Homo sapiens: one gene and its partner. The protein of the gene in region 2 interacts with the protein of the main gene of each other region in a pairwise test. Each region holds a gene or a part of one and is shown on either strand. Other genes may lie near its edges.

What was found.
Region 1: the proteins of ECI1 (region 2) and MAPKAP1 interact in a two-hybrid assay, tested with the Homo sapiens proteins (one large-scale study listed by BioGRID and IntAct).

Annotation. Positions count from the first base shown.
Region 1 is NC_000009.12:125,668,951-125,672,767, forward strand, and holds part of MAPKAP1 (target of rapamycin complex 2 subunit MAPKAP1), read right to left. Parts: intron 3,694-3,817; 5' UTR 3,625-3,693; coding exon 3,366-3,624; intron 958-3,365; coding exon 868-957; intron 1-867. UniProt on the Homo sapiens protein: Component of the mechanistic target of rapamycin complex 2 (mTORC2), which transduces signals from growth factors to pathways involved in proliferation, cytoskeletal organization, lipogenesis and anabolic output.
Region 2 is NC_000016.10:2,241,494-2,245,310, forward strand, and holds part of ECI1 (enoyl-CoA delta isomerase 1, mitochondrial isoform 1 precursor), read right to left. Parts: intron 3,060-3,817; coding exon 2,913-3,059; intron 1,947-2,912; coding exon 1,825-1,946; intron 1,732-1,824; coding exon 1,553-1,731; intron 326-1,552; exon of another isoform or gene 142-325; intron 1-141. UniProt on the Homo sapiens protein: Key enzyme of fatty acid beta-oxidation. Able to isomerize both 3-cis (3Z) and 3-trans (3E) double bonds into the 2-trans (2E) form in a range of enoyl-CoA species, with a preference for (3Z)-enoyl-CoAs over (3E)-enoyl-CoAs.

The DNA of each region.
Region 1 (3,817 bases), on a different chromosome or scaffold from region 2:
AGGCAGGTGGATCACTTGAGGCCAGGAGTTCGAGAACAGCCTGGCATGGTGAAACTCCATCTCTACTAAAAATACAAAACTTAGCCAGGCATGGTGGTGTGCACCTGTAGTCCCAACTACTTGGGAGGCTGAGGCAGGAGAATTGCTTGAACCAGGGAGGCGGAGGCTGCAGTGAGCCGAGATGGCACCACTGCACTCCAGCCTGGGTGACACAGCAAGACTCCGTCTCAAAAAAAAAAAAAAAAATCGGCTGGGCACAGTGGCTCATGCCTGTAATCCCAGCACCTCAGGAGGCCACGGTGGGTGGATTACTGGAGGTCAGGAGTTCAAGACCAGCCTGGCCAACATGGTGAAATCCCATCTCTACTAAAAATACAAAATTAGCCAGGTGTGGTGGCATGCGCCTGTAATCCCAGCTACTGAGGACGTTGAGGCAGGAGAATCGCTTGAACCGGGGAGGCAGAGGCTGCAGTGAGCCAAGACCGTGCCATTGCACTCCGGCCTGGGCAAAAAGAGTGAAACACTATCTCAAAAAAAATAATAATAATAAAAATCAAATCATAGGGTACTCCTTGGCCTATATTTTTTTAAAAAATCAGAAAAAAATACTGACATGACAGCTTGTAAAAAATGTCCCCTGCACACATCAATCCCTGTGACCCAGAGTGAAGGGTGGCCAAAAAGCCAAGAACTAAAGAGCATATAGCTTCAGAGGGTCAAGGCACACAAGAGAAAGAGCTCAAAGCTCAAAACACTAGAGGTATCTAAGTCCAGAGGATTTAAAAGGATGAATTAAAAATAAAAGTTCTTATATAATAAACTAAATATATAAATCTCAAATTAAGAATTAAAATCATTTCCATTTACCTGATTGCTTAGAATTTCTTTCTTTCCACTGAATATTTTTGCATTTGATCTGGTTTTGTCTCTCTTTTCGGAGTCGTTCTAATCTTTGAGCTTGAAAAGAAATATTATAACTGTAAGTTTGTCAATGAAAGTTTACCATAAACAAAGACATAATTAACTACCTTTACATGAATAAAGATGTTTTATATTGCATATGTAGAGAAAAAGTCATAAAATTTTAAAGGTGGCACCCCTGAAAAGCAAATACCAACAAAAACATGAAAATATTCTTGATTTATAATTGAAATTAGAGGATATAAAACACTAATAGAGATCATAAAGATAGTATTAACATGGAAGAGAATAATAAAATGTGAAAACTTCTGTGATTAATATGACATTTCATTATATAAATCATTAATAACGGTCTTAAAGGAATTTTAATGCACAAATGAACTGAAGTGAATATTACATTACAGGAATAAAATTACTGTTATGAATTACTCTACCCATTTCAAAAATTAAAGATAAATGAACTCAGACTAGACTATTAAAGTTTTAAATATAAAATCCTTTATCTAAAAATCATGAAAATTATAAAATGTCAAAGCTATATAAATTAGCATAGCTTTTCTTCAGTGGGCTGAAACAGTTTATAGGTAGTAAAATAAATGATTTGTATCTTTGTAACATTAGTCAAATCTTAAAAAGAACAATTTTTCTTTTACAAAATTTTAAGATATGCTGCATGGATTAAAAAGTAAATTCTTTGGTCACTAAGACAACCTACAATCTCAATTAATTATTAGCATCTAAGTGCTACCTAAAGAAATTCCAACAAGAGTCACCTAAAATTATGCATTTGTGATTATATTGCCACTGGCTGATCAACCTTCAAAAATCAGTGAACTGATCCTTTAGAGAAATACCACCCAGCATGCACTTAACAACTGCCGCATACAGAGACCACAATAAAAAAGAAAGTCACAATTGATGCCATCTCTTGAAATCAGTTTTCTCTTGCTAATCTTCAGCTTCCTATCCCAGCATTTTGCTAATAGAAAATAAATACATCTCTTTTTCCGCCTCTTTCAAGATAGGAAATTATACACTTCTGCCTTAGCATTGTGGTAGGGAAACACTGAAAATAATCTTACCAGAAATTTAAACTATGCTGGGAAGAGCATTCTGACAATGTCACTATATCTAACCAACACTGAAGAAAACTACATTCAATTGCAATTAATAAATGTGAAGGGTACAGCCAAAGTAATATAATCATAAAGCTCTCAATTTAGCAGCATTCTCCCACTGAAATACATTCAACCTGTCATATAAGATATCATCTCAATAACCTGCAAGGAAGTCAGTTTCAACTAGAGAACTGAAAATCAATGGTTCTAAATTATATTCAAACCTTCACTCAAATCCTATTTTGACAAAAGTTCCTTTAGATACTGGGAAATGCTATTAATTATTTTCATCATGAGAGCAAATTATTCTTATGTCACAGATACTGAATTCTGAACCAAAACTTGAATGTGCCTTTCACAGTAAATTGTATCCAGCTCTACCTCCAATATTCCTTTATGTGTGTTTTACATTTGGACCATGAAAATAAATATGTAAGTATTTTCAGTGTTCTACTATATCTCCTTGCCATTACCTTTCCTGGGAGTTAGCAGGTTACTGCTAATTTGAAGATTATATTTTCTGATTATCTAAAAAAAATTACCTCCTAGAATACCTGTCATATTAGAACTACAATATGTATTCTAAATAATTTGTCTAAGTAAAAAAAAAAGTCCTTGGTTCATCACATTCCCCTTGAAACAAGGCCACCAAAAAAATATAAGTGGGAAAATGGGCAATAAGCTTTTAAAGCTAATGACTAAATACGTGTATACCAAAGTTGAGTGTTTTCAAGCCAGAAAAATCAAAAGGTGATCAATTTAAGAAAATAAAGGCGAAGTATCAAAAACAGGGGCCCCTTTTCTAATCTCACACCCTATGTATAGAATCCTACTAAAACCAGCCCTAACAAATACTCAGGTGTCTCCTCCCATTTCCCCACTCCCCCACAATTCCTCCAGGGGCAAGAAGTGCCTGCTCTCTTTGGGTGGTCACCTCTCTGTATTAAATGCTCTTTATTATGTCAACCTGAAATCTGTCTCCGGGTAGTCTACCTACTGGGACTAATGTTGCTGTGTGAAGACACTCAAAGCCAGTCCACTTGCCTTTCTACACAATGACTTGTTAGAAATGTCCAACATGTCTCTCCTAACCAACTTTTTCACTATCCCCCTTCTGTCTACTTCTAATAATATTCTAGAGGCCCTCTCCATTCGCAGTCGCAGAGATGGAGATGTTGCTCAGACTCACTCTTAGTCTGACATATGCATGTTCCTATTAATACCCGGAAACATCCCCCATTAAGCCTATTCCAATATTATGCATTATTCCATAAGACTGTTTACTGATTTAAAGCTCAGAAGACATGACTAGAACACAATGTTTACCTGTGTTTGAGCGTCTTCTAATACCAAAGTCCCAACTTGAGGTAATATCGACTGACTGGGCATATACATAGCCCTGAGTCTCACCATTGCTTCCCTGAATTTCTGACCCACTGTCTCCAGGCATTGAAGGAGGATGAATCTTCTCTAGGTCAACATCATGATCAATGAGAACCATCTCACACATTCCCGTGTCATCACTGGTCACATGTGACTGTCGAATATGAGCTAGAATGATAGTTGGATTGTCCAAGAAGGCCATCCTTTCTGTGGGCCAATTTCCTTAAAAGGCTATTTTCTCCTCTTCATATTGTTTCACGAGCTCACCTACCTAGAAACATGATGTACACAGCAAATATTTAAGAATAAGGCAGAAAATGACTGAATCATTTTTCAGACACATTCAGTGTAGTAAAATGCCACCTTGAAAATCAACATTTATCCCTGTTCTGTGG
Region 2 (3,817 bases):
GCCATGTTGGCCAGGCTGGTCTAAAACTCCTGACCTCAGGTGATCCGCCCACCTTGGCCTCTCAAAGTGCTGGGATTACAGGCTTCAGCCACTGTGCCGGGCTGGTTTTTACATTTTTGAATAGTTGAAAATCAAAAGAAGGTTAGTATTTTGTGACATGTGAAAATTATGTGAAACTCAAATTTCAGTGTCCATAAAATTTTTTTTGTTGTTTTTGAGACAGAGTCTCACTCTGTCACCCAGGCTGGGGTACAATGGCATGATCTTGGCTCACTGCAACCTCTGCCTCCCAAGTTCAAGCGATTCTCCTGCCTCAACCTCCCAGTAGCTGGAATTACAGGCACGTGCCATCACGCCCGGCTCATTTTTTTTTTTTTTTTTTGAGACAGAGTCCTGCTCTCTGTTGCTCAGGCTAGAGTACAGTGGTGCGATCTCAGCTCACTGCAAGCTCCGCCTCCCGGGTTCACGCCATCCTCCTGCCTCAGCCTCTCGAGTAGCTGGGACTACAGGCGCCCGCCGCCACACCTGGCTAATTTTTGTATTTTTAGTAGAGACAGGGTTTCACCGTGTTAGCCAGGATGGTCTTGATCTCCTGACCTTGTGATCCGCCCGCCTCGGCCTCTTAAAATGTTGGGATTACAGGTGTGAGCCACCGCGCCTGGCCCATTTCTGTATTTTTAGTAGAGATGGGGTTTCACCATGTTGGCCAGGCTGGTCTTGAACTCCTGATCTCAAGTGATCTGCCTGCCTCAGCCTCCCAAAGTGCTGAGATTACAGGCGTGAGCCACCGCACCTGGCCCACTGTCCATAAAGCTTTGCCGGAACACAGCTATACCTGTCAGTTTACGTCTCCTCTGTGGCTGCTTTCTGCTACAAAGGTCTTACCTACAGAGCCCACAAGCCACCTGGCCCTTTAGAGACAGAATTTGCTGGGCCCTGGTCTATACCATCGCTGATATGACCAGCTCTTTTTCTATGAAGTGGACAATTGTCTTTGTAGTAGGTTGAAAAGTGTGCCCCAAAAGATAGGTCCAAGCCCTAACCACTGCTCTGGAACTTGGAAGTGTGACCTTATTTGGAAAGAGTCTCTGCAGATGTAATTAAGTTGGGATCATCTTGGATTTAAGGTAGGTCCTAAATCACATGGCAGGTGTCCTGAGAAGGGAGAGAGAGACCTGAGACCCACAGAAACACAGGGGAGAAAGCTGCGTAAGGATGGAGGCAGAGATTAGAGCGAGGCGCCCACAAGCCCAGGGAGGCCTGGAGCCAGCAGAAGTGGGCGGGGCAGGAAGGAGCCTCCCTGGAACGCAGGGAGGAAGTGCAGTCCTGCCCACACTTTGATTTTGCACCTCTGGTCTCCAGCACCGTGAGATGAGCTTCTGCGGTCTGGGCCACCCGGTCTGTGCTGCGTTGTTACAGCAGCCTCCTGACACCCACATGGCTGTGATTATCAACAGTCTCCCGAAGTCACGATGTCCACAGAAAACCTTTGGGTGGAGAACCTTCTGGTCTCCCCAGCATCATCGGGCGCCCGCCATGCCCCGTGCCTCACCTGGAATGGCCATCCACTGGGCTATCGCTGACAGCGCAGTGCTCTGCACCTGCTCCTCCGGGACCACCTGGTCCACTATGCCCACCTGCAGGGCCTCCGCCGGCGGGAAGAGCAGCCCCAGCTGCAGGGCACGCTCCGCCGCCCGGTGCCCGATGGTGTTCTCCAGGGTGTCTTTCAACCTGGAAATGCAGACACCCACTCACCACATGGCCCCAGGCGGGTCTGTTCCCTCCACAACAAGCATGGAGCGTGGCTGCAGCCCAGGGCCTTACCAGAAAGGGGCGATGATGCCCAGCTGGGTCTCATTGAGTCCTATGCAGTACCTGGGGTTGTCCGCCAGGATGCGGTAGTCACAGGTCAGGGCCACCAGGCAGCCTCCAGCGGGGCAGGCTCCCTGCAGGGAGAGGCCGGACAGGGCTCTTAGGTGCTGCTGGTCCCAACCACATTCCAGAGGGCCAGGTCCAAGGAAGGAGGGCCTGTGCCCTTGGCGCACCCCGACCCCCGCAGGGTTCAACACCCACAATGGTCTGGGCTGGGCTGGGTGTGCACTGGGAAATGGATGAGGAAGGAACTGGCCCCTTAGCGCTCGGCAAGGAGGGTCTGAGGCTCGTCCTCAGCCGAGGGTCATTAGTTCTTCGGCAACAGATAAATCACTTTTAAAAACCATTCAGTTAGGGGAGCAAGTCGCTTGTCCTCTCAGTGCTTTTACTCAATGCTAAAATGCCACACAAGCATTTAGTCATAACTGTCATGCCCCAAGGGGGCCCCGATACCACCCCAGCAGCTAGCGCAACCAGGATGTCCTGGGAACCCCACACTCACCCTGTGGTCACTGCAGGTACCCACTGCCCCGCGCAGGACCCATCCTGTCTGCATGGCCGTGCACCCTTGAGGCTTCCTCTCACACCAGCCCTCCCCTCCACCAGGCTCCGGCCCACACCCGGCTTGTCACAGCCACCCCGCAGGACACCCTGGTTCCTGAGGTTAAGCCCCCGTGTTGTTCTCGGCTTCCCTGGCCTTCCCCCAGAAGGGATGGAGTGATGTTTCCAAAATGTGGGTCCGATCACCCACTCACCCACACAGCCTCCACCCAGGCTGGCATCAACCCCAGGCCCTGGTCCCTACCCACTGGCTCTTTTCTGGGTCTTGTCTGATTGACCCAGGCCAGGGCCCTCACCCGAGGCCCACCTTTCTCAACACGCCCCGTGGTCTGCGATGGCGCTCACCTGTGCACATCTCAGGGCCTCTCCAACCGTCCCCTTCCCCTGTGAGAGATTCCAAGGGCAGGACAGTGTCTGTCCCACCCCCTGGCGCTGGCCCAGAACAGCCAGCGAGGCCACCTGGGAGTGGGGACACTCACGTTGATGGCGGAGACCAGCACCAGGTTGGACTGGTACAACCGCAGCCACAGCTCCTGAACGGCCTTCCAGTACCCAGCGTAGTGGGCGGGGCTCCTCCCACACATCTCCGTCAGGTCCAGGCCGGCCGAGAAGACACCCGGGCGGTCCTGCAGGGGGAGCCGGGGCCACATGCCCATCAGAGTCCACCTCCCAGCTGGCATCACAGCAGGAGGGCTGGGGAGCCCAGGTGCACGACGCACAGCAGGGCCAGGTCACGCTCAGGGTGTGGGTGCTGCCCCACAGAGCCAGGACTAGGCGCTCCAGGGACTCGGCCAAGGCTTCTCCTGGACCTGGCTTCCCTGTACTTCCCAGAACATTCTTCCCTTTCCCGCTTCAAACTGGATAGGAGAGGACAGGCAGCGCCAGGCACCTCTCAGGGACATAAGTGCGCCGGCCCTCTGGCTCTGCACGCCTGGCTCGGGCAGAAGAACCCAGAGGTGTGGTGAAGACTCCTGAGAATCCAGAGGAGCTGCACGTTCTGAATCATTTACCCGCAAAGGGCCAAGCAAGCCAGGGACCCCCGTGTGGACCAGGAAGTGCTAGGGTGGGAGAATGATCTGGAATGTGTGGGTTTCTCAGCAGCTACCAAGGAAGGGCGAGGGGTGAGCACAGGTGGAAGGGACCCTCCCACGGCTGGAGTAGCGGGCGCCAGCACAGGAGCCTCAGACTCCCAGTCAGGGCTGCCGGCCAGGGAGGCGGGCTCGGGGAGGAGTGGAGAACCCACCCTGGGGACCCTGCATGGTCACAGCCCCCTGAGCAAATGACAAGGGTACCTTCCCCTCTGCACAACACGGCACGTTTTCCTCCCGAGGGCCAGACCCCCCAAGGCTGTGGGTGAACTTGTTCCTGCAGCTGAACCCAGCTC